Homo sapiens: one gene and its partners. The protein of the gene in region 1 purifies or fractionates together with the protein of each later gene. This does not show direct contact. Each region holds a gene or a part of one and is shown in the gene's direction. Other genes may lie near its edges. The genes, in order: VTI1B, VAMP4, NAPA and STX6.

What was found.
Region 2: the proteins of VTI1B (region 1) and VAMP4 purify together in Homo sapiens (affinity purification with mass spectrometry; 5 studies listed by BioGRID and IntAct, with this or other methods). This does not show direct contact.
Region 3: the proteins of VTI1B (region 1) and NAPA purify together in Homo sapiens (affinity purification with mass spectrometry; 5 studies listed by BioGRID and IntAct, with this or other methods). This does not show direct contact.
Region 4: the proteins of VTI1B (region 1) and STX6 purify together in Homo sapiens (affinity purification with mass spectrometry; 5 studies listed by BioGRID and IntAct, with this or other methods). This does not show direct contact.

Annotation. Positions count from the first base shown.
Region 1 is NC_000014.9:67,664,195-67,672,292, reverse strand, and holds part of VTI1B (vesicle transport through interaction with t-SNAREs homolog 1B), read left to right. Parts: intron 1-8,098. UniProt on the Homo sapiens protein: V-SNARE that mediates vesicle transport pathways through interactions with t-SNAREs on the target membrane. These interactions are proposed to mediate aspects of the specificity of vesicle trafficking and to promote fusion of the lipid bilayers.
Region 2 is NC_000001.11:171,731,725-171,739,822, reverse strand, and holds part of VAMP4 (vesicle-associated membrane protein 4), read left to right. Parts: intron 1-1,359; 5' UTR 1,360-1,408; coding exon 1,409-1,474; intron 1,475-8,098. UniProt on the Homo sapiens protein: Involved in the pathway that functions to remove an inhibitor (probably synaptotagmin-4) of calcium-triggered exocytosis during the maturation of secretory granules.
Region 3 is NC_000019.10:47,486,318-47,491,342, reverse strand, and holds the end of NAPA (alpha-soluble NSF attachment protein), read left to right. Parts: intron 1-486; coding exon 487-555; intron 556-1,581; coding exon 1,582-1,632; intron 1,633-2,953; coding exon 2,954-3,055; 3' UTR 3,056-3,706; downstream 3,707-5,025. UniProt on the Homo sapiens protein: Required for vesicular transport between the endoplasmic reticulum and the Golgi apparatus. Together with GNA12 promotes CDH5 localization to plasma membrane.
Region 4 is NC_000001.11:181,019,469-181,028,501, reverse strand, and holds the start of STX6 (syntaxin-6), read left to right. Parts: upstream 1-5,631; 5' UTR 5,632-5,828; coding exon 5,829-5,863; intron 5,864-9,033. UniProt on the Homo sapiens protein: SNARE promoting movement of transport vesicles to target membranes. Targets endosomes to the trans-Golgi network, and may therefore function in retrograde trafficking.

The DNA of each region.
Region 1 (8,098 bases):
AAAAAAATTAGCCAGGCATGGTGGTGCATGCCTGTAGTCCCAGCTCCTGGGGAGGCTGAGGTGGGAGGATCACTTGGGCCCTGGAGCTGGAGGTTGCAGTGAGCCAAGATCGCACCACTGCACTCTAGCCTGGACCACAGAGCAAGACTCTCCCAAAAAAAAAAAAAAATGTAGACTGCATTTTCAACCTGGCACTGAATTAATTTTTGCAATGCCCATTTCTATAAGTCTAAATAATGCAAAAGAACATTGCTTTGAAAAATAGAAAATTGAATTCATTATTACTATGGTTTGAATGTCCCCCTCTAAAACTTATGTTGACATTTATTTGCTATTTTAATCGCATTAAGAGGTGGGACCCATAAGAAATGATTAGACCATGAGGGCTCCATCCTCAGAGATTAGATTGTTATCCTGAGAGTGGCTTGGTTGTTGAGAGAGTGGGTTAGTTCAGCCCTCTCTTGCTTGCCTGCTCTCTTGATCTGTTGCCCTTCCATCTTCTGCCATGGGGTGACCCATGGGTAGCAAGAAGGCCCTTGAAAGAATCAGCCCTCTCAGCCTTGGGCTTCCCAGCCTCCAGAACTCTGAGAAATACATTTATTTTCTTTATAAATTACCCAGACTCAGCTATTCTGTTATAGCAACATAAAGCTAAGATAGTTACATTCACCTTTGTTGTCTACCCAGCCTTTTTCTCCATCCTGCAAAGAGGACAATCAGAAATATGTGAATTTCTTTTCTTTTTTCTTTCTTTTTTTTGTTTTTTTGAGATAGAGTCTTGCTCTGTCGCCCAGGCTGGAGTGCAGTGGTACAATCTCAGCTCACTGCAACCTCCACCTCCTGGGTTCAAGTGATTCTCATGCCTCAGCCTTCCGAGTAGCTGGGATTACAGGCGCATGCTACCACACCTAGCCAATTTTTGTATTTTTAGTAGACACGGGGTTTCACCATGTTGGCCAGGCTGGTCTCAAACTCCTGACCTCAAGTGATCTGCCCGCCACGGCCTCCCAAAGTGCTAGGATTACAGGTGTGAGCCACTGCGCCCAACCACAAAATACTCTAAGTTGCTGGTAACAGACATAGTTGTTTAATGGATAAGTAAAGAAAATATATACATATCCCTAGAATTATAATAAGTCCAACAACTTTACCTCTTATTCACTACCTCATTCACACTGCTCAATAAATGTTTGTTGAATAAATTGAATTTATCTAAGCAAACACATGGTGCCTCATCTCTGAATCCTCTTTTTCTAGTTCAGAGACCACATCATAAAGTTTTCAGAGCTTTAATGCCCATCATGAATTATTAGGCACAGCATAATGTACATAATACAGTCCTTGCATGTAGCTTATGCTCTGTAATTGAATTCAGTCATTTTTCAATAAACACTGAGAATTATTATGTATCAGCCACTGTCTAGGCTCTGAGGACTTCCAGAGTTCTTACCTTAAAAAGAAACAAACGGCCGGGCACGGTGGCTCATGCTGGTAGTCCCATCACTTTGGGAGGCCTAGGCGGGCGGATCACAAGGTCACGGATGGAGACCATCCTGGTCAACATGGTGAAACCCCATCTCTACTCAAAATACAAAAATTAGCTGGGTGTGGTGGCATGTGCCTGTAGTCCCAGCTACTCAGGAGGCTGAGGCAGGAGAATCGATTAAACCCAGGGGGCAGAGATTGCAGGCGACAGAGCGAGACTCTATCTCAGAAAAAAAAAAAGGTAACAAACCTTACAACCAAGTGTGTGATTAATCCTAAAATAAAGTTCTCTGAGACCATAAAAAGGGCTGGACTTGAGCATGGGGAAGAGGGGGAAGCTTCAAAAAACTTCAAACTGAATATAAGGGATTGAATGGGAGTTTGCTAGATGGGAAATGCGAAGAGGCAACACAGGAGTAAAACATGGAATACTCCCAACTCTGGAGCTTAGAATGTATGTGGGAAAGTAGTAGTAGAGGGGCAGGTGAAACAGCCAGATTGTGAGGGGATCTCAGTGTCACATTGAGACATTTGGACTTGATATGGAAAGTCAGTAAAGGACGTAAAGCAGTTGATTGATGTGGATTTTCTTTTAGAAGGAGGGCATTAATGGCTAGACAGGACAAGAGAGAGCACAAGAATCTGGGTACAGGGGACTGTGTTAAGAGCCTTTTGGGCAGTCACCTTGCTAACGGGAATTTGTTTGACACAGGTTCTCACTCCTGTCTCCCGTCATCCAGGCTGGAGTGCAGTGGCACCATCACTGCTCACTGCAGCCTTGGCTTCCCGGGCTCAGGTGATCCTCCCACCTCAGCCTCCCGAGTAGCTGGGACCACAGGTGCATGGCACCAGGCCTGGCTAATTTTTTGTATTTTTAGTAAGGGTCTCCCATGTTATCCAGGCTGTTCTCGAATTCCTGGGCTTAAGTGATCCACCCACCTCAGCCTCTTAAAGTGCTGGGGTTACAGGGGTGAGCTACAGTTCCCGGCCCAAGAGTTGGTTTTGAGGCAGAAATTAACCAGCCTCAATGGATATGAGGAGTGAGGGAGAAAGGTTCCAGGGTGTCTGCATTTTTTCACTTGGTCAACTGGGTGAATGATGAACTTAAGTAAGAAACATAAGAGGAGAAGCAGAGTTTGGGTTGTGGATGAGAATATCAAAGGTACCTGTAGAACAGAGATCATGACATAATATAGCCTTACAAAATGTTTCTTCTTCTGCCATTAAAAATAACATACGGGGGCCAGGTGTGGTGGCTCGTGCCTGTAATCCCAACATTTTGGGAGGCTGAGGCAGGAGGATTGCATGAGGCCAAGAGTTGGAGACCAGCCTTGGCAACATGGTGAGACCTATCTCTACAAAAAAAAAAAAGCTGAGTAGTGTGGTGCTGCTCACTTGTAATCCCAGCTGCTCAGGAGGCTGAGGCAGGAGGATCACTTGAGTCTAGCAGTTTGAAGTTTTAGTGAGCTGTCATCACATCATTGCACTCCAACCTGGGTGACAGAGCAAGACTCCGTCTCAAAAAAAAAAAAAAAAATTATGAAGAAGTATGTGAATTGAGAGGCCATATAGTATAATATTTAACAGCAAGAATTCAAGAGCCAGATTGCCTGAGTTTAAATTCACCTTCTAGTAGCAGTGTGACCTTGGACAGGTTACTTTAACCCAATTAGTTTTTCCTGCCAAATGGGGATAAATCATAGTATCTACTTCACAGGGTTTTTGTGAGGAGTAAATGAGTTAATATATGTAAAGTCCTTAGAATACTGCCTGATAATAGAGCTACTAGCCATTTTATTTAAATGAAAATTAAGAATACCAGCCCTGTATACAACTATTCTTACCTTTTTTTTTCCAGAGTACTTATTTTCTGACATATTAGACACTTTCCACATTTATGATATTTACAGTATATTGTTTGTCTTCCTTTCACTAGGACAGTGGTTTCATTGTGGTCCATGAACCAGCTGCATCAGCATCATTTGGGAACTTGTTAGAAATGCAAATTCTCAGGCCCCACCCCAGACCTATTGAATCAGAAAGTTTTAACAAGCAGTGTGTTTTCACAGCCCTCCAGGGGGTTTCTGATGAAGGCTAAGTGTGAAAGCCACTGAGCTAGAATATAAGCTCAATGTTGTCTTTTTTTCACTGTGTTTCCTAAGTACCAGAACAGTGCCTAGCACAGACTAGGTGCTTCATAGATACCTATTGGATGATGGAATGTGTGAATTGTTGGAAAGAAAATATTGATATATGATTGTGATTTATTTCTATTCTGTTGTCCACATTTTCATTACTTTAAAAATGGGTATATTCCACCTATTAAAACAACAAAAACTGTATTTCTCCAAAGTACAGTCTCCATTCACTTTCTGCCTTTGAATGATACTAGAGACAATGTGTCCTGTTTTAGGAAGTTTTTGTGTAACTGTCCATTACCACTTACAATAATTATTAATCCATTTAATATTTCATTAAATACCTATGGCCATAATTTCTACTCTTGGTTTTACAACCTCTGAAGAGGTCTCTCCAATTACCTCAGAGTACTATAATGTGCTATAATTTCTTAATCTAATCAATGTTAAATGCCTGTGGTCATGATTTCTAGTTTTGGTTTTGTCATACCTGAAGACATCTCTCCATATGTCTTAACGTGTATCATAAAAATATTGAAAGTTTTCCATTTTAAATCATTTAGATCAGTATGTATAACACAAGACCCTATTATTTTCAGAGCCAGAAAAAATAGTCACTATGGAGTACTATAATCAGCTGGCCGATAAACACCAATTACTTACAGACTGTAGAATTTTAACTATTCTAACTCCTCATTTTTTTTGTTTGTTTGTTTTTTGTTTTTTGAGATGGAGTGTTGCTCTTTCACCCAGGCTGGAGTGCAGTGGCGCGATCTCGGCTCACTGCAACTTCTGCCTTCCGGGTTCACGCCATTCTTCTGCCTCAGCCTCCCGAGTAGCTGGGACTACAGGCGCCCACCACCACGCCGGGCTAAGTTTTTGTATTTTTAGTAGAGACAGGGTTTCACTGTGTCACCCAGGATGGTCTCGATCTCCTGACCTCGTGATCCGCCCGCCTCGGCCTCCCAAAGTGCAGGGATTACAGGCGTGAGCCACCGCGCCTGGCCTCTAACTCCTCATATTTTCTACTGAATTTGGTTTTTGCTCTTAGGTTCTTCCTAAGTATTTACTTTCAGAAACAATGGTGGTTTCTATTTATTGAGCCCTTATTATATTTGGCACTTGCTAAGTGAATGTTATGTGTATTATTTCTTTTAACCCTTTCAAACAACCCTTACAAGGTCAGTAGTCTTATAGTCCCTATTTGCAGATGAGGAAACAGGTTGGTTGAGAGGGATCTCTGTTGCTTTTAACTCTTGTATGGTGTGGGATCTAGTCAGCTGTCACGGTGTACAAATAAAGGGTGTAAGTCCTCCATTTTGCCACAGTGAGGCACCAAAAGCAAAGTAACCACATATTTATGAGCTGGTGAAACTGAAGTTGTTTCCACAACTTTAAAGGGCCAAGATTAGGCATTCTTGGGCTGGAAATTCAAATCCCCATAAGGAAGAGAGGCTGCCCACCTTGGTCAAACATTAAGGTAGGCTTTCTGTAGTGCTGTTTTTCAGAGCTGTCTGTTTCCATTTTACTCCATGTCAGCATCCACCCAGTTTCCCAAAGGAGACAGAGTTGGTCCCAGAGAGTCCCTCACATGTGACTGATTTGGGCAGGCTTGTGGGGTGGGGGATAGTGGTATTTGAAGTGGTTCATTCTTGTTCATGGTGCCCATTCTCCCCAGGATGCCACCTTGCTGTTTGTAGTTGATTGTAGCATCAATTCTAACTCCCTAAAAAGAGGAAGAGGTTTTTTGTTTTTTCAACAGATTTTACCAGTTGTTAAAGGCTATACTCTGGGAGCACAAAAATGCCCCTCAGTTGTATACAGTATACAGTTGTTTAATATACAGAAAAGCCTTGGACTGGGAGTCAGCACACTTGCATTCCAGAACTAGTGCTGCCATACATTTGCTGTTCCAATGACTGTGGGGCAGGCACTCAGTTTCTCCAGGGTCTAGTGTCCTCAGTGGTAAAGGCAGGAAGTTAGACTAGATGATCGCTGAGGTACATCCTAGCTCTAGCATTCATTGGTTTCATAATTCTGAGCCTAAAGAATTTTTAAAAAGCTGCTATTGATCCCTCTCAGTTGGGTAGAGATCAGTCTCTTGAATTATCTGCCTCCCTGGCTTTATCATCACAAGAAATGATTTCAAAGGTTTCTGTTTTGTTTTGTTTTAAATCTTAGAAGTCCAGAAAGGATCTCATAAATGTAGTGAAGTTCTGTAAAAGTATGTTGTTATAGAGCACTTATAAGAGGAAATGTGTTTTATGAAATCAGGTAGGAAATGGAATATTCTAGCACACAGAAGTTAGTGAAAGGAGAGAGGTTCTGTGGTCTTCTTCTCCCCCTTTCATTTATGTAGTTACATTCCTGGAATCATTCTAGAATTTGCCTCTTGAGAATGCGGATTTTCATACCCATTAACAAAGGAAGAATAAAGGAGGAGAATTTATGACTAAACACAGTTGTAGAAAAGTCTAGGAAAGGAAGGAGCTAGGAAGGGAATGTACATATGTGTACAGTACTGCTTCTTACTGTCTGGCTTGGATCAGGAGTGAGCATGCCTGAGTTTGGAGATGTGCTGACTCAGAGCAGTGATGATGCTCAGCACTTTTGGGACAGCTTATTACAAAATAATACAATACTGCTCCATGGAAGTAGCCGTTTTTGACTGTCGGTATTATTTCAGTACTGGTAGCTAAGAACACATCCCCCTCAGGAACAGTAATAGCTGCCTTGGTGCTCATTTCAGTTACATCATAGATGGTCAAGAGTCATACCATTTGCCATGGTGAACCTTCCTCTACCTTTTTTTAAACAACAAACAGCCATGGGTTTTGTGAGTGGTATGGAGAAAATTGTCTGAAGTATCTTGTGTATATTAAGGGGGTGGCACACAACAATGAATGAGACATAGTAAAGGGTGTGTTGTCATTTGCCCTTTCAGGCAGTAGCCACATCTAAGGAGGTTTATAGTTCTAGGATCTATGGCACAGTAAAAATGACAAAATAAATTTCCATGTTTCAGAGGAACTTGGTCTCAAGTTGAGATTATAGAATATACGCATCCAAAATGATTTATGGTCACTTAAAAAGTGGGATACAAGGACAGGTGTGGTGGCTCACACCTGTAGTCCCAACACTTTGGTAGGCTGAGGTCGAGGATTGCCTGAGCCCAGGAGTCAAGACCAGCTTAGGCAACATAGTGAGGCCCCATCTCTACCAAAAAAAAAATTAGCTGTGTGTGGTAACCTGCACCTGTAGTCTCAGTTACTTGGGAGGATGAGGCAGGAGAATTGCTTGAGCAGGTGGGAGGATTGCTTCAGCCTGGGAGGTCGAGGCTGCAGTGAGCCGTAATCATGCCACTTCACTCCAGCCTGAGTGAGACTGTCTCAAAAAAAAAAAAAAAAAAAGATATAACTGACATTAGATGCTGTTGTGATTAACAAAATGTAAATCCATATAAAGCATTACAGTGACATTACATCTTATGTAGGATTGGGTTCAAAAGTCAGGGCTTGGCCGGGTGCACTAGCTCACACCTGTTATCCCAGCACTTTGGGAGGCCGAGATGGGTGGACCACACAAGGCCAGCCTGGCCAACATGGTTAAACCCCCTCTCTACCAAAAAATAGAAAAATTATCTGGTTGTGGTGGTGCACTCCTGTAACCCCACCACTCAGGAGGCTGAGGCATGAGAATCACTTGAACCCAGGAGTTGGAGTTTGCAGTGAGCTGAGATGACGCCACGGCACTCCAGCCTGGGCAACAGAGTGAGACACAGTCTCAAAAAAAGCCAGGTCTTAAGATGAAAATCAGAGTAGACAAATCATCTAAGAAAATCTCAGGACAGCAACTGAATACCCACATGCCATTTCTCCATAAGCCCGGCTCATCTGTTCTCTTTTGCAGCGGAAAGGCTGAGGTGGATGGATCACTTGAGGTCAGGAGTTTGAGACCAGACTGGCCAACATGGCAAAACCCTGTCTTTATTAAAAATGTAAAAAAATTAGCCGGGCATGGTGGTGGGTGCCTGTAACCCCAGCTGCTCGGGAGGCTGAGGCAAGAGAATCGCTTGAACCTGGGAGGTGGAGGTTGCAGTGAACCGAGACCGAGCCACTGCACTCCAGCCTGGGAGACAGAGCAAGACTCTGTCTCAAGAAAAAAAAAAAAATTGCTCTTTAGTTGGTGGAAGTGCTGCTGGCTTGTGTTTAGGAGTCACATTGAAAAATACATAGCTTTAAAAGGCCATATCCCCATACGTGCAACAGCATAGATGAACCTTGACTTTGTGCTAAGTGAAATAAGCTAAACACAAAGGACAAATATTGTATGATTCCACTTAATGGTGTACCTGGAGTAGTGAAATTCATAGAATGGGGAGGTATTTGATGGGTACGGAATTTCAGTTTGAGAGGATAAACAAGTTCTGGAGAACAGTTAGTGGTGATGGCTCCACAACGGTGTGAATGTACCTA
Region 2 (8,098 bases), on another chromosome or scaffold:
AGAAAACTAGCTTTGTTTAATCCAGTTGTTTTGATAGAAAAAAATTGAGTTTCTCCTATTCTCTCTCAACACAGACCCCCAAAAGATTTCTCCTCACAAGCAAGGAGGAAATTCTGCAGCAGATTCTCCAGCTGGGTGTCCTCTAATTCAATTCTGATACTGTATACCTAGAGATAGCATCAGATCCTGCAGGTTGAGGGCTTAATCCTACAAGATTCCCCCCACTTCAGGTGCCAATCACAAGTTCCAGGTTGTTTTACCTGTGTTTCCAACTGACTGGCTATAAATCAGAGTTCCCACAATCCCTTCCTTGTGTTCAGTTTATTTGCTAGAGTGGCTTACAGAATTAAGAGAAACACTTTGTTTACTGGTTTATTATAAAGGATAGAGATCAACAGCCAGATGGAAGAGGTGCATAGGGCAAGGGGTACAGAGCTTCTGTGCCCTCTCCAGGTGTGCCACCGTCCAGGAACTCTCTACTTGTTCAGCTTTTGGGAAGCTCTCTGAACCCTGTCCTTTTTGGGTTTTATGGAGTCTTCCTTAGTAGGCATGATTGATTACATCATTGGCTATTAGAAATCAGTTCAACCTTGAGCCCTCCTCCCCTTCCAGGAAGCTAGGGGGTGGGGCTGTAAAGTCCCAGTCTTCTAATCATGCCTAGGTTTTTCTGTGACCAGCCTCCATCTGGAATCTATCTGGGGGCTAAGCTACCAGTCATCTTATTAGCATACACAAGACACATCACTGCAGCGATTCCAAGGATATGTCAGGAAATGGGGATTAAGACCAAATGAGTATATTTTGTAAATCACGATATCACACCAGTACTTACCAAACTTACCCCTTTTCATGGAGTACCAATGGGACATTATAGTTTGCAGAATATTTTTGCATGTATTATCCAATTTGACCGTCCCAACTCTGCAGAAGCCTGAAAATCAGTATTTTACACCTGAGGAAACTGAATCATTGCTTAAGCAACCAACTAAAAGTGAGAGAAATAGGCATGTTCTCCTGTCTTCTGACTCCAACTTTAAATTGTAAAGCATTTAATGTCTCAGTGAGACGTCCTCCCTCTACTCTCTGCTCTTTCATTTTATAAAAATCTTAAATCACTCATATCCTACACATGTTCTCTTAGGGCAATTACATCCATTTTCTCATAATTTTAACTATTTCTTAGGTGTTGAGGTCTAGCATGGAGGCCCCAGTCACTGGAGTGGAACAAGTGAGAGGGCAGGAATTGAAGTCAGAAAAATGAGGGAGTCCCTGTCATACAGGGTTTCATGTACACTGTTTTAAGTACATTAGCTTATGCCCCAAAGTCTCAAATCTGATGAAATTTATTTTCTCTTTAAGGTGGTGACTATCCTGTTGAGAAGCAAAAGATACTTTGCAAGTAAAAAATATGCCTCCCAAGTTTAAGCGCCACCTCAATGATGATGATGTCACAGGTTCTGTGAAAAGTGAAAGGGTAAGTTCGGAATCTTAAGCTTTAAAAACAAAAGATTCAAAATATGTTTTCATTCCCTTTGTGAATAATAGAAGAAAAACCATCCGGGCGTGGTTGCTCATGCCTGCAATCGCCGCACTTGGGACGCTGAAGCAGAATAGCTTGAGCCCAGAAGTTCAAGACTGTCTTGGACAACCCAGGGAGACCCTGTCTCTATAAATAATTTTTAAAAAATTAATGGGGCATGGTAGCACATGCCTATGGTTCCAGCTATTCAAGAGGCTAAGGCAGGAGGATCACCTGAGCCTGGGAGATGAAGGCTGTGGTGAACTGTGATCTGCACTCCAGCCTGAGCAACAGAGCAAGACCCTGTCTCAAAAATTAATTAACTAATAATAATAACAACAGAAAAATCAAAAGCTTATGACTATATTCTAATCCTAATTGTTTTCTTCATAGCAAATGTATTTAAAAACATGTTACTTAGATTGGTGACAACTGAATTCTACTTCCATTATTGATCAAATCATTATTCTCATAGCTTCTTTCTAGTTTTTGAAAGGGAGTTTTATACAAATACACAATATCTTATTCAGAACTTTGAATGTATTTGGAATTTTTCAGATTTTAGAAAGTTAAGAACATATTATGTAACAGCATTTTTGGGGCCTGGACCAGTGCCTCCAAAAATATTAATATTTCTCAGTGAAGTCTATATTTAGTTATATCTAACTAACTATGTAAATAAAGTGTGTAAATAAACTAGCTAACATCAGTTCAGGTCAAATTTTCCTCCAAAACTTTTTGATTTTCAGAAGCTTTTAGATTTTGGAATTGCAAATAAAGGTCCCCAGACCTGTAATTATCTTATGTTCCAGAGTATCTTTTATATAATGCTTCAATTTCTAGTTTATTCCAGAACATTCTATGCAAATATATATAAATCTAGAAATTATGCCGCATTTAAAAGACAACATTTTATATGAATGTTGTAGGCAGATTACTTTTAGAATAAGTACTCAATACATATTTATTGGGGGAAATAATTCACGTTCTTATTTTTTTAATGCACCATTCTGAAGCCCTCCTTCCTTTCCTTCTTGTCTTGATTCATTCAACAAATATGTATTGACCACCTCCTATGTGCTAGGCACTGGGCTAAAAATTGGAAGACATAGTCTGTGCCCTTGCAAAGCTTTTAGTCTGCTTTGTTTTACATGCTCTTTTTGGACAACCTCAGAACTTCATATTATCCACTCTGTCCACCATCTTATGACTTTTAGTCATAAGTTTCTTTTAGTACAACACAGGAAACATTTTCTTCCCCTTATTCTAACCCTTTGTACAGCTTTTGCGGTTTTGTGTGTTTCTGATGGTTTGTTTTTATTTTTTGAGACCAGGGTCTCGCTCTGTCATTGAGGCTGAAGTGCAGTGGTGCAATCACAGCTCACTGCAGCCTCCACCTTTTGGGCCCAAGCTATCCTCCCACCCCAGCCTCCTGAGTAGCAAAGACTACAGGTGCATGATATCATGCCCAGCTAGTTTTTGTTTTTCTCGTAAAGATGGGGTTTTGCCGTGTTGCCCAGGCTGGTCTCAAATTCCTGAGCTCAAGTAATCCACCTGCCTTGGCCTCCCAAAGTGCTGGGATTACAGACATTTGACACTGCACTCGGCCTGTTTTGTTTTGTTTTGTTTTGTTTTGTTTTGTTTTGTTTTGTTTTTTAATGGGGAAATAGAATCCACCAATAGATTAATTGCTAGCAAGCTTTTACTAATAAACTTTAAGGAGTCACCAATGATTTCCATGTTGCCAAATCCAGTTACTCCTTCTTTGCCATAATTTCAACTGCTTACTAGCATTTGGTGCAGTTTCAACCATTTTGGTCACCTATCTTTTCCTCCATGCCATGGTGAAACTCTTAGTGTCTGCTTGAGCTAGTTCCCCATGCAAGGAATTGAGAAATGCCTTGAAATATACCAAGTCTGGGTGAACCCGGAAGGCTCTGGCCGAGAGAAGGCAGAGGATGATCAGGGATTGAGAAATCACTCAGGGATAATCCAGGGTCTCTTTCTTTAATGTAATATCTTTCAAGATAAACCTCCAAGAAAAAGTGATTCAGAAAATTTGATATACCTGTGCTGGAATTCCATACACTGAAGATTTACTATCAAAAGCATGTCTTGGCCAGGCGTGGTGGCTCGCGCCTGTAATCCCAGCACTTTGGGAGGCCGAGGCGGGCAGATCACTTGAGGTCAGGAATTCAAGACCAGTCTGGCCAACATAGTGAAACCCCATCTCTAGCAGAAGTACAAAAATTAGCCAGGTGCGGTGGTGCACACCTGTAATCCCAGCTACCTGGGAGGCTGAGGCAGGAGAATTGCTTGAATCTGGGAGGCAGAGGTTGCAGTGAGCCGAGATTGTGCCATTGCACTCCAGCTTGGGTGACAGAGTGAAATTCCATCTCAGAAAGAAAAAAAAAGCATGTCTTTACAAAGCAGAAGGTTTGGCGAAATACTAAACCCATTCAGAGAATAAATGTCAATTTGTTAAAGTAAATGATACCAATTGTGAACCTATAAAGGAACCCAGTGTAAAACAACACAGACTTGATATGCATCCAGTAAAAGCTGACTGAAAGCTCCTGATGAATATTCAGTGATCAGCGTGCACAAAGCATGCTGAAATATTTTTTAAATCATCGGTTAGAAGAATCTGAGCCTCTTTCCTATTGCCCCAAGGAAATCTTTAGTCACTTACCCAGAGATGCTTGCAAAGCATTAATATCCTGGAAGATGATCAATAAATGCTGACAGTTGATTGACTGATATCTGAGATATGTCAGGTAAATACCTCAGTCCTGGACAGAGAGCCCCTAAGTCACATCTGCCTTTGTGTAAGATGAAGACTGAAGTATGGAAATGTATGTAGTAAAATCACCTCTCGGAACTTGTTTGTAATTCATACAATCTATGTCAATTTTGAAAAATGTATGTAAAGCAGAGAAGGTTGTAGCCAAATTCAATGTATAGTATGCAAGAGTATATTATTTAATAATTTTTAATTGATGCAAATCCCATTAATTTTATAGTTTTATTTTTACATGATTTTAAACTGAAACTATTTATATTTCCTAAGTTCCCCTGTGTTTCTTTCTCACAATCACTGCTGAACGTAAATTTGTTGTTCACTTAATGGAATCACTGTTAAGGACACAGTCACTTGAATATGATTGCTTTTTAAAAATCAAGTCCAGGCGTGATATACTAGGATCACAGTTTCATGGCATGTTGGTCATAATCCTGAGAAAATAGTGACAAAATTATTATTTGTAGATATTAAATACCAGTTTAATAATATGTGTGGAAATCAGATTAAATAGTACATAAAGCCCACCCTAATAACAAGGGCAGGAAAAATTACTTCAAGAAAAACAATAGTAAACCTTAAATTAAAAATAATACAAATAAATAAGCTTTATGAATACATTTTTAAATTTAAAATGTATTGTCTCAATAAATTCCACTGCTGAGACTGTAATTGTATCACTTTCTCCTTATATTCTTCATTGATTATTAGTATATTAGACACCAGAACTGAATAAAATTGACTGTTTCAAGAGAACTCCTTTTTGATGTTTATTATATTATGAAGTTTGATAACTGATTGGTTAGAATAATATATAAATTACTTTTAAAATCTTTTAAAAGTTTTGTTCCTCTTTCCTATTATACTTTTTTGGTAATAGCTTTATTGAGATAAAAGTCACGTACCATACAATTCACCCACTTAAAGTGTACAATTCAGTGAGTTTTATTATATTCACAGAGTTGTGCAACAATCACCACAATCAATTTTAGGATATTTTCATTAGCCCAAAAAGAAATGCTGTGCCCTTTTGCAGTCATCTCCCATTTTCTTTATCCCCTCAGCCTCTAAGCAACTGCACTCCTATAGATTTGTCTATTCTGGACGTTTTCTGTAAATGGAATCATATAACATATAGCCTTTTGTGACTGGCTTCTTTGACTTAGCATAATGTTTTTAAGATTCCTCAACGTTATAGTGCATATCAGTGCTTCATTTTTTTTTTTTTTTTTTTTTGAGACGGAGTCTCCCTCTGTTGCCCAGGCTGGAGTCCAATGGTGCGATCTCGGCTCACTGCAACCTCCACCTCCTGGGTTCAAGTGATTTTCGTGCCTCAGCCTCCCAAGTAGCTGGGATTACAGGCGTACACCACCACGCCCAGCTAATTTTTGTATTTTTAGTAGAGATGGGGTTCCACCATGTTGGCCAGGCTAGTCTCGAACTCCTGACCTCAGGTGATTCACCCACCTCGGCCTCCCAAAGTGCTGGGAGATCTTCATTCCTTTTTATTGCTAATAATATTCCCTTATATTGATATAACACATTTGGTTTGCCCATTTATCAGTTCATAGATGTTTGGGTTTTTTTCTACTTTTGGCTATTTTAAATACTACTGCTATGAGCATTAGCATACCAGTTTTTGTTTGAGCATGTTTTTATTTCTCTTTGGTGTATACCTAAAGGTAGAATTGCTGAGTATTGTAGTAACTCTCTGTTCAGCCTTCTGAAGAACTGCCCAGCTGTTTTCCAAAGTGGTTGTACAATTTTTACATTCTCACCGGCAATGTATGATGATTCTAATTTCTCCACATCCTCACCAACACTTAATATTATCTGCCTAGTGGGTATGAAATATTATCTCATTGTGTCCTATTATTCTTTTTTGACACTGTATCCCTAGCACTTGTGTTTATTCAATTAATATATGAAAAAGCATTGGTTTTCATGTGTGTTTCTCAGTGTACAATTATAGTAAACATATCTTTAGTATCATTATCCTCTAAACCAAATAAATTATTACTATTACTATTATCATTATTATTTTGAGACAGGGTCTGGCTTTGTCACCCAGGCTGGAATGCAGTGGCACGATCAGGGTTCTGCAGCCTCCTCCTGGGCTCAAGCAATCCCCCCAAGTAGCCTTCAGAGTAGCTGGTATTACAGGCATACACCACCACGCCTAATTTTTTTTTTTTTTTTTTTTTTTTTTGTAGAGATGGGGTTTCACCGTATTGCCCAGGCTGGTTTCGAACTCCGGGGCTCAAGTGATCCTCCCTCCTCATCTTCCCAAAGTGCCAGGGTTACAGGCGTGAGCCACCATGCCCGGCCATAAACCAAATACATTATATTATAAATGTAATGCTTGTCTGTTACTTGTTAGCTAGAATATTACTCAAGAAATATTTATTTAAAAAATGACCTAATGCATTTCCTTGAATATTAATTGGTTTTGAACATTTCATGTGGTCATTGGCCATTTCTTCTATTGGGAATTATCTATTTCTATTCTTTGTTTTTCTATAATGTCTCTTTTTCTTACTAGTTTGTCAAAGCTTTTTATATAATACAGACATCAGGTCTTTTGTCTTAAAGGATACTGCAGATGTTTTTTCCCAGTCTGTTGCTTGTTTTTTAACCTTGTTTTTGATGTCTTATGTTCAAGTTTTAAATTTTTATATAATCAAATATGTTAATCTTTTTCTTTCAGACTTCTGGAGTTGTGTGTTGTTTAGGAATAACTTACCCATCTTAAGAGTTAACTATTTATATATTTTCAATCTTTGTGATTTCATAACAAAATATGTCTAAGGTCCCATTTTCCTTTAAGTACTGCTGTGGCCATACTCTTCAGATTTTGACCTGTGATCTTCCCAGTGTCTTTCATTTCAAAATAGTCTAATCACCTTTATTTACATTTAACATAAAAGTTAATGAGAAGGATGTTTTTTGTTTTTTGTGAGGTTTTTTGCTACAGGGTCTCCTTTTGTCACCCAGGTTGGAGTGCAGTGGCATGATCATAGCTCACTCTAACCTCAAATTCCTGGGCTTAAAAGATCCTCCCATATCAGCCTGCTGAATAGCTAGGACTACAGGCATGAGCCACCATGCCTGGCTAATTAAATTTTTTTTTTTTTTTTTTTTTTCCCATAGAGACACGGTCTTGCTATGTTGCCAGTGCTGGTCTTGAACTCCTGGGCTCAAGTGATCCCCCCACTTTGGCCTCCCAAAGTGCTGGGATTACAGGTGTGAGCCACTGCACCCAGCTGAGAAGAGTATTTTAAAACTTCCTTTTTCCATCGCATTATGGTCAGAGAATATGACTTGTGTAATTTCTATTTTTTGGAATTTATTAAATGTCCTTTGTGGCTTACCCATAAAGGAAAATAAAATAAAATTTGCTGTCTAGTTTCAAAGTTCTAGATTTTTTTGTGTGTTTGGCTTCTCCATCTCTGAAGGGTATGTTAAATCCTCCCTATGATTTTGATGTAACTGTTTCTCATAATTTGCGCAGCTTCTGTAAGATACTTTAAGCTATATTATTAGGTATTTAAACATTCGTTGCTATTAAATCTTCTTGATGGATTGTATATTTTATTATTGTAAAATCATCTTATTTGATTGTTTAATACTTTGTCCTAAAATTCCTCTTTATATTGCTAACTGTAACATTCTTTTTGTTAGAATTTGCTGATGTTTCTTTTCTACCCCTGCTTTTCCCCATCCTTTATTTGGTATTTGTTTTAGGTGAATTTCTTGCAAACAGATATTGGCTAGAATTT
Region 3 (5,025 bases), on another chromosome or scaffold:
CCGGTGGTGGGCAAAAGCTTGGGCTTTGTCAGACCAGGTTCCCATTCCCACCCCATGTCTCACCGTGCCCTGGGCAGGTCACTGCCCCTCTCTGGATCTGTTTCCTCACTTTGAAAAGGGGGCTCACCGTCATTTGACCCTCTCAGGGTCCTCAAGAAGCACCAGCCCCAGGCCTGGCATGGAGGATGTGCTCATTTGTCCCCTGCCCCAGCTGAGCCAGGTGGGAGGAGGCAGTGGGTGCCTATCTGGGGAACCTTCCCCCTCCACCCACCTCTCCCTGCAGCCATCTCTGCAGCCAGGCTGGTGCTGAGCTCAGCTACGGGAAGGTACTGACAGACACAGAGCCAGGTGACACCTGAGGCTGGGGGAGGGGTGCAAGAGCTGACTCAATATCACCCGACATCCCCAAGTCCCCTCAGCTGCTAGGCCAGTAGCTCTGAGGACCCTCTTGTTACTAACTCATCTTCTCCCTTCCCTGCTGCCCAGCTGGCTGTCCAAAAGTATGAGGAGCTGTTCCCAGCTTTCTCTGATTCCCGGGAATGCAAGTTGATGAAAGTAAGTGCTGGGTGCTCCGGCCTCCCCCTTCCCGAACCTCAGACGGGGGTGGCTGGGGCTCCAGGTGGGACAATCGCCAAGACTTGTCCAGTAGTTCTCAGAGGGTGTCTTTGTTTTGTTTTGTTTTGTTTTGTTTTGTTTGGCCATTTGAGTCTCCATTTTCCAGATGAAGAAAGTACAACTCGGGGAGTGCTGGAGCTCAGGATGGCTAGGTGGACACACACACACACACTACACACACCACACCACACCACACACACCAAACATACACTACACACACCACACCACACACATCACACCACACCACACACACCAAACATACACTACACACACCACACCACACACATCACACCACACCACACACATCACACCACACGCTACACACACACCACCCCACACACCCCACACACACTACACACACACCACACACAGCAAACACATCACACACCACACATATCGCACACACACTACACACACACGACACACCCCTCACACAAAACACATTGCACAGTACACACACCACACGACACACCCCCCCACACACAAAACACACTGCACACACACCACACATGACACACCCCACACACACACATTGCACACACACTACACACACCACACACACCCCACACACACACCGAACACACCACACACGCAACTCAACACACACCAAACACCACACGTGCCCCTACACACCACACCCCAACACACACACCACACACACACACACCTCCACCACACACCACACCCAACACACACACCCCCCATACCCACACACACACACATTCTGTGTGATGTTCTATGTTGGTAAGGTTGCCCTGAGAGCAAGCCGTTTCTGATGAATAGGGCAGCAGGATCGCAACACGCCCGTACCCATCCCCAGTTTAACCCACACGGATTGACCCTCTGAGAGTCCTCAGGAAGCCCCAGCCCCAGGCCTGGCATACAGATAGCGTGTCCTTTCATCTAATCCAGGCCAGACCTCAGGTCAGCATAGGCCCCTGACCCCTCTCTGCCATTTGCTTGCAGAAATTGCTAGAGGCCCACGAGGAGCAGAATGTGGACAGCTACACCGAGTCGGTGAGTGGCCAGCATGGGGGGCCAGGCCCCTTCACGGGGATGGGTCTCCTAGGAAAGCTGCCCTTCTCAGACACGCTCTCCATGACATTCACCCATTTCATCTGGCCCCCAGCCCACTGTGAAGTTCTTTCTCCAGTCACCCCAGAAACCTTACAAGTAGCGCCAAGAGGCGCAGGGAGTGTTCTCCCCATTTTATAGATGGTGGCACTGAGGTTGGGGAGGTCAGGAGGCTCGGCCTTGGCCCCTCAGGGACAGAGCTGGTGTTCAGAGCCACATCTGTCTGCCTCTGAAGACCAGGGTTCCTTGAGTCCCCCAGGTGAGTGTGTGAGACTCACAGTGGGCGCCTTGGGCACCCAGGAGGCACAGACGGGGAGGGAAGGGGTGAGAAGGAGAGTGGAGCTGAGGACATGGGAGAGGTGCCAGCTTCCCTCTGCCTGGTGGAGCCGCCCACGCGGCTCTCTCTCCCTTCCCTTTCTCTGTTCCCAGCATTCCCGGGCTTAGTGGTGTCCGGCTCAGGTCCTGATTCACTCCTCTAATGGCACATGTCAAGCATTTCTCCCTAGGTGCCCCTTGGGAATGGAAGCCCCTAACTGAGGACAGTGAAAATGCCATCCTGTTCCTCCTGCCCCAGACAGTGGGTGGCAACTCAGCCAGGAGCTCAGGGAGGGGATGCCCAGCAGGCCGTGGCTTCTCTCCCCCGTGTCCCATGGCACTCAGGAGTGGCCTTTTCCATATCTCCAGGCCTCAGTTTCCCACCCATTCAGTGAGGATGCTGGACTTTTTTTTTTTTTTTTGAGACGGAGTCTCGCTCTGTCGCCCAGGCTGGAGTGCAGTGGCGTGATCTCGGCTCACTGCAAGCCCCGCCTCCCGGGTTCACGCCATTCTCCTGCCTCAGCCTCCCGAGTAGCTGGGACTACAGGCGCCCACCACCACGCCTGGCTAATTTTTTGTATTTTTAGTAGAGACGGGGTTTCACTGTTAGCCAGGATGGTCTCAATCTCCTGACCTCGTGATCCGCCCGCCTCAGCCTCCCAAAGTGCTGGTATTACAGGCGTGAGCTACTGCGCCCAGCCATGGACCTTTTTTTTTTTTTAAAGCTACAATATCTTTCTCCCCCAAGGGAAATGATGTGCCCAGCATAGTCAAGACAGACAAGAGGGAGCTCCCATGGCTGAGTTGGGGCCTCAAGCCCTCCCTCTACTCCTCCTCAGAGACCAGGGGTGACAGAGACAGATCTTGAAAACCTTGGGACAAGTGCCCTTGGGCTGCAGGGTTGGGAACGGGGGGAGCATGGCCAGCCTATCACCTGGTGTGCCCTCAGGTGAAGGAATACGACTCCATCTCCCGGCTGGACCAGTGGCTCACCACCATGCTGCTGCGCATCAAGAAGACCATCCAGGGCGATGAGGAGGACCTGCGCTAAGCCCCACCCAGCCCCCCAGTGCCCGTCTTCCTGTCCCATCTGCTCAGAGAGAGGTGGGGCCGAGACTTGCTGGAGAGCTTCCCTCCTTTCCCATCTGGGGAGTGCCGCGGGCCACAGTGGGCAGGTGGCACCGGGGGTCAGCATGCAGGGGCGCCAGAGGCCCAGGCTGCTGGCCGGACAGTCACCCTCTGTTCTCGCTACATCCCTTGCCCCCTGTCCATTTATTTAAGCCCCCATAGGTGCCCTTCACCCCCAAAACCAGCTGTACAGAATCTTTGATACAGACCTATTTGCTAGGGGTGCTGCCGGGGATTTGGGGTCAGCATCTGGCCCCCTATCTCCTGACCAGCTGAGTCATGAGGCCGGTTTCTCTCTCTCTCCCACTTTTGTCCCCCAGCCAAGCTCTAAAGCACATGTAGCCGCTGAGACCTGCTGTTTCTGCTGGGGGCAGGCTCCTCTTCCCCCAGCCCCGGGAGCCTCCCCCAGCTTCCTGCAGCCCCGACCTCTCAGGTTAGACCCTGGGCCCTGGAGCTTAGGGGATTCTCCCCACCCCAGCCCCACACCTGCTCCTTCCCTAATGCTTTGAGGTTTTCTTGGTTGGAAGCTGCAGCTGGCCCAAGAAAGAAAATAAAAAACAACACTTTTGCATGAGTCTCTCTTCCTCCTCACCTCTGCTACCCACTCTGCCCCTGGGCCAGTCACCAGTCCCTCTCACACTCCTGGTCCCCCAGACTCTGGGCGAGCTCTTGGGAGGTCAGGCGCATGCATCCTTGAAACACGTGTGGGCTGGGTCAGTTTCTAGGTGGGGGAGACCCAGGGACGGTGGGCCTGGGGAGGAGCTCTGGCTTGGGAGTCCCAGAGCGCCCATCTTGATCTTTCTCTGGGTTCTTGGGGTCCAGGGGCCTTGATTTCCTCAACTGGGATGCACGGTGGTGATGCCACCCCTCAGAGCCAGTGGGAGGGTCGAATGTGACGGTCCTCATGACTGCTTTGGATGAGAATGGGTGGAAGCCCACCGAATCTCCCATGTCCACATTTCTCTGGCAGGAAGGCTGAACGCCCCGGTGACAGTTGTTCCATCTGTCACAGGACGGGGGAGGAAGCGGCTTTGGTGGGCAGAGTCTGAGGCCCGAGTGGGTCTGGGGAGTGGGGGAGGAGATAGCAGGAGCCTTTGCCCAGGAAAGGTGGGCAGAAACCAGCTGCCTCCACCACACTCCACAATGTGCATGTTGGGGGCCCTGTCTGGTACACATGTGCTTTACCCTGCCCCGCGCAGGGCCCCTCGCTACAGAGGAGACAGCTGAAGGAGGCTCAGTGCCCAGGCATGATGGGAAAATGTCAGGAAGTGAGCAGGGGCAGTAATTGCACAGAGGAGGGGCTGCCTAGGAAACCAGGGTGGACTCCTGGGAGAGGGGCTCCAGCCCAGAAAGCCTAGAGAAGTGCAGGTGAGGTTCAAATTCCTTGACACCTGCCCTGCTCCTCTCTCCCCTGCAGCTTCTCCCACAGCTCCAGTCCACTGATAATGGCAGCAAAGACTTCTGAGACCTGAAATTGATTACCATGTCTGCCCCCATCATGGGTGCTGGCTGAAGGATAGTGTGAGAATCTGTTTCTGTCATCCATGACCTAAATCAGTGATGGTCCGCCCTGGCTATGCTTTAAAGTCATTAAAAGTATCCAGACTTGGGGCTGGGTGCTGTGGCTCATGCCTGTAATCGTAGCACTTTGGGAGGCCGAGGCAGGCGGATCACTTGAGGTCAAGAGTTCGAGAGCAGCCTAGCCAACATGGCAAAACCCTGTCTCTGCTAGAAATACAAAAATTAGGCATGATGGTGCAAAAATAAAAGTATCCAGACTGGGGCCGCACTCTGATAAATTGTGGTTTGACTGAGGTTTCCTACCCTTTGGGGGTTTTTGGGTTTGTTTTTTTTTTGAGACAGAGTCTCGCTCTATCGCCCAGGCTGGAGTGC
Region 4 (9,033 bases), on another chromosome or scaffold:
TTAAACAACATTTCTAATGACCACCAAATGGATGTTCCACAAATTCTCCATCATTCCTTAGTGCTGAATATGTAAATTGACTGGAATTCCTCCTTGTTTATTTTAAATCAGTGTGTAGAGGGTGACAGTGGTGGAGGTGTTGGTAACAAACAGGAAGAGGAAATAAATCATGGCCAGTGTGTTTTGGATATGTGTATGGATATTTTCTGTGGTTGGAGGTAGGAAACATAGACAGTCATAGCCAGATCAATGGAACTTAACATAAGTGGAATGTTCTGGAATATGTACATGTATATCAGGGTTTCTAAAAGGTTGGATAATGATGAAGAGTATGATATCCTATATCTATGTTAACACTTTTCTCCCTTTCTTTACCTTGTTTCAAGAAGGATTTAGGGTGAACTCAACAAAAACAAAACAACTCAATCAAAAATGGGCAAAGGACTTGAATAGACATTTCTCCCCACCCCCCAAAAAAGATATACAAATGGCCAATAAGCACACGAATAGGTGCTTAACATCACTAATTATTAAAGAAATGTGAATCAAAACCATAATGAGATACCACCTCACACCTATTAGTACAACTGCTATAAGGGAAAAGAAAACCCAGAAAATAACAAGTGTTGATGAAGATATGAAGAAATTGGAATGCGTGTGTCTTTTAGCAGGAATGTAAAATGGAAAACAATATGACTGTTCTTCAAAAAAATTTAAAATAGAATTACCATATCCAGCAGTTCCACTTCTGGGTATATATCCAAAATAATGGAAAGCAGGGTCTCAAAGAGATATTTGTACACCAGCGTTCATAGCAGCATTATTCATTATAGCCAAAAGATGAAAGAAAGCCAAGTGTCGTCCACTGATGGATGAATGGACAAGCACAATGTGGTATATATACAATGGAATATTAGGCTTACAAAGGAAGGAAATTCTGCAATATGTAGAATGAATGAATGAACCTTGAAGATATCATGCTAACTGAAAGAAGCAAATCATAAAAAGACAGATCCTGTATGATTCCACTTATGTGAGGTACCCAGAGTAGTAAAATTCATAGAGACACACAGTAGAATGGTGGTTGCCAGAGATTGTTGGGGGAGAATGGGGAGTTGTTTAATGGGTATAGAGTTTCAGTTCTGCAAGATGAAAAGAGTTCTGGACATTGGTTGCACAACAAGGCAAATATATTTAACACTACTGAATTGTACACTTAAATATGGTTAAGATGGTAAATTTTATGTTATGTGTATTTTACCACAATTAAATTTTTTTTTTTTTTTGAGATGGAGTCTCGCTCTGTCGCCAGGCTGGAGGGCAGTGGCGTGATCTTGGCTCACTGCAACCCCTGCCTCCTGGGTTCAAGTGATTCTCCTGCCTCGGCCTCCCAAGTAGCTGGGACTACAGGCACGCACCACCAAGCCCAGCTAATTTTTGTATTTTTAGTAGAGATGGGGTTTCACCATGTTGGCCAGGATGGTCTCGATCTCTTGACCTTGTGATCTGCCCGCCTTGGCCTCCCAAAGTGCTGGGATTACAGGTGTGAGCCACCATGTCCGGCCTCATAAATTTAAAAAATAAAAAATTTAAAAAATAAAAAATTATTCCCATATATGATCCAGTTGTTCCTTATAACAGGCTAGTGAAGGAGCAGGCTGAATGTCATTATTTCAGAGTAGGGGAGATCCCCTTGTAGGGGTGTCATGGCATTCCCGCAGCTTCCAGGGGCAGGGGGTGGCTACCCACTGCAATCCCTCTCAGGTCTATCCTGGCATCCCCAGTGATATGGTTGGCTCCTTTCTGATCCTCAGCTCATTTGGCTGCCTGTGCCTTATTCTCTGTGTTGCCATCTCCTTATTTCTGCAGAAGATGCATTGCAGGACCCAGTGTGCTCCCTTCCTCATTCACTCTCCTAACTTTGGAGACTCACTCAGGAACCAGAGGTTCTCCTGGCTGCCCACTCAGAACTCTACAGAAAGCTCAGAGTTGGCATGTCAACCTCCCCCAGAAAAATGAACAGAAGTTAAGTCCAATTAAGAGTTTCGGTTTGAGGAATTCTGACAAATGATACTCTCATGTAACACACACTCCGTCAAGATACAGAGCATTTCTAGTACCCAAGAAAGTTTCCCTTCCCAGTCAAACTCTGTCCCCCAAGACAACCACTGTTTTGATTTTTTATTCCCTGAGAAATTTAAATTATTCTTTTGGGTTGGGGGTGGGGTAGGGGTGGGGGTGTGGGAAGAGATGGGTTTTTGCTGAGTATTCTTCCCAACCTATTGTTTATGCCAGGACGTGGGTCCTATTAAATGAAAAAAAAAAAAAAGAAAGAAAGAAAGAACCTCCTTTGTTTCTCCTTGCATTTTAGCCATAGCTTCCCTTTCCTTGTGGGCAGTGGAGGCCAAGGTCTAGTTTGAGAGAGGGTAAAGGAGGGTGACACATTAAAGAAAGGAACACCTACACACACACACACACATACACACATTTTATATCTTGACACTCCACTATCTCCATTGTTGGTGCTTTTTCTAATCCCCTAATTATGGGAACCCAAGCCTCTGTCCTCTATCTTCTATTACTACTTATAAAACTCTGGCCTGTCATATGTGGTCCAATTAAGAAATTCATGGAACAGATAATAAGAGGCCGTGTCAGGCACTTAGGTGATAATAACATTAACATAGTATCCTGTCCCTCCAGGAGTTTACTGTTTGGTGGGGATAAATGACATGCTAACAGCTAATTTACATTCACCCTAAATCAAATCCTCCTCTTGTGTTCTCTTTCTTGATGGTTGGAACCAACACTACCCATTTACAACCCCAGAAGCCTTCCTCCCTCTTCTTTCATCAATTCCCCCATACCCTGAACCAATCAGTCACCAAGTATACTAACTTTGCCTCTAAAGTATGTCTCAAATGCATCACTCTTCTCCACCTTAGTTGTCACAAGCCCAGCTCAGGATACCCTCATCCCTCCTCTGGACCATAACCTCCTAGCCACTGAAGCATCTGTCTCAAATGCCAATCTGACCCTGTCAATTCCCTCAGTCCCCATGGGGAACTGTCCATAGGAAGCGTCCACTATTCTGAACATTACAAACAAGGGCCCTGATAATCTGACCCTGTCCACCTCCAGGCTTAGCTCCTGCTGCCCCCATCCTTTTCCTTCTACTCCAGCAACATGGCCCCCTTCTCCTGGCTGCTTCTAGTCACTGCTTAGGAACCCCCTGCCCCAGCCCCGAAAACACACAAATATACTGGTATCTTGTCGCTGTGTTTCTATGGCAACCTGTGCCCTTCTCTCACTGTGTGTCTCTCCCACCAGTCTGTCTCTCCCACCAGTCTGACAGTTCCTTGAAGGCAAGAACCAAGCCTTGTTCATGCCTGTGTCTCAGTGCTTAGCACACAGTAGGAGCACAACATGTGTCAGGCACTGTTTTAAGCACTTTTCACACATCACCTCATGACACTCTATAAGGAAGCTGTTATTACGGTGTCTATTTCACAGTTGAGGATAGTGAGAGATGAAGCGGCTTGCCTGAGATGCAACAGTCAGGAAGCAGCAGAACTCAAGCAATCAGACTCCAAGGATGGTCTTCAACACCATGCTCACCTACCCCTCAATTTACATGTGCTTGTTGAATGAATGAACGATGACACGTTTTCACCTCCCCAGCTAAGTAAATTAAACAGTTCTCTCCCAATAAACATTAGCAATCACTAGTATTGGACACTGCTTCCTTTCCCCACATCTGCCTTCCATCATTCGCTCCTCCAGGGATTTTGGCTTTCACCCCTCTCTTCTCTCCCCTCCTGAAACCCATTCAGCCCCTCATCATGTCTAGGTGTTTAGTCTTGTTTTCCTTTTGAAACATCTGTCAGATTCACTCCTTCTCTGTTCTCAATCGCTGTCATCCTGGTCTGGACCTCATCCCTTCAGGCCACATGACTTTAGCAGCGTCCTTACTGGTTTTCCTGACTTCAGTAACTTAGTCCTTTGGGATCTTGAGGTTTACACACATTTTTATTTAACCATCACAACAACCCATGAACTAGCTATTATTATTTATGTTTTATAGATGAGGAACTGAATGATAGAGCCAAGGTTTAAACGGGGTTTGTGTTGCTCCAAGGACTGTGCCAGCTCCAGACTGGTGACCTTGGGCAAGTCACTTAACCTCCGAGTCTCAGATTTCTCATTTATAAAATGGGCATGATAGCAGTAATTATCACATTGTAAGAGCAACTGAGATAACACTTAACATCCTGCCTGACACACACACACAGTAAGTGCTCAATGATTTTCAGCAATCAAAGTCCACAATCCCCATCCACAAATTTCATAGCATATCTAGCATATGAGTTGGTTAATGGTTCTGGGCAAAATGTTTTCTCGAATAGCTCTTGAACCACAGTGAGAGGAAGTTGTCATACCTGGCCCCTTCTTTATTCCTCGAAGGTGTGCTCTCCTGGGAAGCACCATATGCTGTATGAAAAATTACTTTACATGGTTATTTGCAGAATGTACAGCAACAGAAAGTACACCCCATCTGGTGGAAAGTGCACAGAATCTGCAGTTCTGCCCTGTCCAGGCTGTGTGACTACAGGAAGTCTTCAAGCCTCTCTGAACTTATTTTCTTATCTACAAAATGAGAAAAATGGATGGTGTGGTGGCTCACGCCCATAATCCCACCACTTTGGGAGGCAGAGGCAGGAGGATCATGTGAGCTCAGGTGTTCAAGGCCAGCCTAGGAAATATACTGAGAGCCCCATCTCTATAAAAAATTTAAAAATTAGCCGGGCGTGGTGGCGCTCACCTGTAGTCCCAGCTACTCGGGAGGCTGAGGCCGGAGGATCGCTTGAGCCCAGGAGGTCAAGGGTGCAGTGAGCTGTGATTGTGCCACTACACTCCAGCCAGGGTGACAGAGAGAGACCCTGCCCCCCAAAAAGGGGGAGGGGGGAATAATACTTTCCCCCAAAGGATACTGAGATGATGCATACACAACCTTTAGCACACTGTCCAACACAAAGCAAGACCTACTTAAAGGATCTGTGTAACATTATAATCAGATACTATGCTTCATTTTAAGTCGAGGACCAGATAGATTTATAAATTACATACTGTCAAAATTAAGTATTAAAAGTAGAGGAAAGGTAAGAGGATTTTGCAAATCAGGTACAACTACAGCTTATCCTGAAAAGCCGACTGCCTAGTTCTGAGGGAACAAGCCACTCCTCACCCTCAAGCTTGAGGAGAGGGCTGTAGAAGCCCGCCCACCTCCACCGCCCCGAGGGCTCCGCCTCCAGGGCCGAGGGACGCAGGCGTAAGCCCCGCCCACTGGGGGGGGGGGGAGAGAGAGAGAGAGAGAGAGAGAGAGAGAGAGAGAGAGAGGAGAGAGAGGAGAGAGAGGAGAGAGAGGAGAGAGAGGAGAGAGAGGAGAGAGAGGAGAGAGAGAGAGAGAGAGAGATATATGCCCTGGTCACGTGAGCGGGGTGCGGAAGTCGTGTTTCAGGCGGCGTTCGTGATTGGCCGCGGCCGAGGGTCCCGGGGGTGGGGTCAGGCCCTCCGACGCTTCGGGAGGAGCCGGGACTGGAGGCTGCCGAGGGGGCCGGCGCCCGAGTCCGGGATTCGGCCAGTGGTGCTGAGCGAGTGCTGGACCAGCGGCCGTCCTGTGCACCTGGCCTGTGCGCGTGCCCGCTGCTCGGCTTCACCCAGACTAAGGCGCGGGCAGCTGCGGGAACAGGCGGGGTGGGCGGAGGGAGACCGGGAGGCACGGGCGCCCTGTGCGCGGAGGAGGTGAAGGCGGCCGGGGCCGGGACGCCATGTCCATGGAGGACCCCTTCTTTGTGGTGAAAGGGTGAGTGTCGGCCGAGCGCTCCACCGGAGGAAGAGGTGGCGGTGCTGCCTGCCCGCACCTCCTAGGTCTTCTCGCAGTGGGGGGAGGGGAGGCAAGTTGGAGCTGGGGAGGGGGAACAGTGGAGACGGCTTAGTCTTGAGGGCCATGACCAAGCGTCAAGAGACGTTCCCTCCATCCCTACCTGGACCGTGAAGCCACTGTCCCCAGCCAAGCCCCTGGTGGTGGGGGGCCCTTTTTGGCCTGTGTGCTGCGGTACAATTTATTTGGGGGCCGAGGGGCTCAGCAGCTCTGCAGGTGGGGAAGGAGACACGCGGGTCCTGGCGCACACTGGCCGTCTAGTCGAGCATGGGATCTTGCTTCGAAGGAGCGAAAACAGCATCTGGGCAGGAAAAGGGAAATGGCCCTCCTGAGCTTTGTAGTTCGCGTTGACGGGGGTGAGCTCCATTGTCCATTGAGTTTGGAGCGCTTGTCCGCAGACTGGCGAGACCACAACAAGCCCAGAGGCGTCTGAGCACGTTTGCTGGGAGGGAGGCGGGGGCGGGGGCCGTTCTGGGAGGCTGGGGAGCAGGGCACCGGAAGACAATTCAATGGGGGAGTTTTTACTGAGTAATGTGAGGAGAGGAAAGCAGTCGTTCATACTCAGTGATGATTTGGAAGGAAAACAAAATGAAACAAGCCAAACCAAACTTTCCTCAGCTTTCTATTAGCAACCGGAATTTTCTCACAGTGCTAAAGGAAATGAGTGTTGCTTGTTAACTCCTTGATTTCATCCAGGTTGTTTGACAGGTTTCTCCTATTTCTTCTGCCTTTCAGAATAGAAAGGACTGCCTTCTGTTCCCTTACAAGCTATCCTAGCTCATCTTTGATTGCTCGATTGTTTCTTTGGAGATAGAGTCTTCAACTGCACTTTGTAATATCCACTTCGTAGCCATTAAACACATGCAAGAAGATCAATTCTGATGTAACTTTTAGTTTCTTATTAGAAACTTGTCAGTTTTCTGTTTTAAATGTCAAACATGAAAAATCTGAAAACTGCAAAGTTCCCAGGTCAGTACTGATCACCACAGAATGTCCCTTGCTTTTTACTAGTTGCTGCTAGCTTCCTATTTCTGTAGTGGTGCAAGCTGGCCGTTGTATAGTCAAGTGTTGTAGAAAATTTAAATGGTATTTTAGGTGAAATACTTTATCGATTATGCAGTAAAATACATTTATACTACTTCTTAATATTTCCCTGGAAAGTTTTTTTTCTTCACCTTACTCTAATTTAGATGGGAAAATGCTGAGTTGTAAATTTACTGGTAATATGTGTATCCCTACCTAGAAAATGTGATATTTATTAGAAGGATTGATTTAGGGGTTAATTTTTAAAATAGATGTTTTTTCCTTGATTGAAAGTTCTTAATGCTTAGGTTGGCAAAGGTTATCTCTGGCGGTAGAGATCAGAGATGATCAGAAATTTTTTGTTTGACTTTTTATGGAATTTGTCAAAAGCCTAAATTCTTCTGTCTTGGCATTTTTTTTTCTTGATGGTATCCTATACAGTCTACTAATGCTTGCTCACTGATTAAATATCACTACTTTATCGGAACATTGGCTTGGAGGGAGTTTTGATTGATTTTTACATCATTTTAGCTCCTATCTTTAAGGTTCTTGAAGGAAAAGAGATTCTCAGTTCCTTCTGCTGTGGAAAGGTAAAGTCACCCATGAAGGTGTATCCAGATTTTTGGGGAGTCATGTACCTGTGTTTATTAAAAGTATCAAAAATGCATTACACAGCATGCAAAAATTAAAGGTGCCTAAATTATGGCCCTTAGCCTAGGAGCTTCTGGTCTAATCTGAGAAACAAATTACCCCAAAATTAAATAGAAATGACAGGTGGCAAATGAATGAGTGTTGAAGTGAATGCTACAGATAAGTGCCTCAGGAGTTCAGAGAAAGGTAACTCCTTGGGAATTGTTAGGATTAGGAGAGCTTTTGGAGGCAGTAGTGTATCTTGAATTAGGTTTTGAAGATGGGCAGAATTTAGATAATCAGGCCTGTCTCTCTTACCTGGATGCTTATCAGAGTCTTTTTAATTGTTCTTCCTGCTTCTGGTCTCATTTCCTCTTTCAGCTGTCCTGGGATCTATTGGATCATTGCTGTCCAATAGAAGTATAATGCCAGCCATGTATGTCATTTTACATTTTCTAGTAGCCGCAGTAAAATATAAAGGAACAGGTGAAATTAATTCTAATGTAATCTCTAATACATTCAAAATATTCAACATGTGATTAAAGATTATTGATGAGATATTTTACTTTTGTACTAAGTCTTCTAAATCTGATACATATTTTACACTTACTGCACATTTAAATTTGGACATTAAATTTTCATCAGAAATAATTGATCTGTATTTAAAGTTCATTAAATACATTTTTTTTTTTTGAGACAGAGTCTTGTTCTGTTGCCCAGACTGGAGTGCAGTGGTGCAATCACGGCTCACTGCAACCTCTGCCTCCCAGGTTCAAGCGATTCTTGCACCTCAGCCTCCTGAGTAGCTGGGACTATAGGTGTGTACCACCTCACCTGGCTAATTTTTGTATTTTTAGGACTATGGGCAGGGCACCCGCCACCACGCCCGGCTAATTTTTTGTATTTTTTAGTAGAGACGGGGTTTCACCATGTTAGCCAGGATGGTCTCGATCTCCTGACCTTGTGATCCACCTGTCTCGGCCTCCCAAAGTGCTGTGATTACAGGCGTGAGCCACCGCGCCCGGCCTACATACTCTTTAATTGTTCCAAACATACATAAAAGGTTTTTGATAACTGAATTGCTATCAGTTACCAAGTTTACATTAATTAAAATTTAATTTCTGTCACACTAGCCACATTTCCAGTCAGTAGTTGTATGTGGCTTCCGTGTTGGACAGCACAGTGTAAGCTTTTCTAGAGTCCTAGACAGGTGTACCCTACTTAATATTATTCAGTGGCTGCTGCTGGCCTGCAGAATAAAGTGCCAACACTTCCTGACCTCACTGATCTAGCCTCTGCTCTCCCTTAGCCTTAGTACTCCAGCAGTGCCAGACTCAATACAGTGACTGTGATTGCTGTACTGGATGCTCTTACTCTACATGCACCCACACTGCCTGATTCACCCACGCAGCTTTCTGGAGTCAGTGTAAGCATCTCCC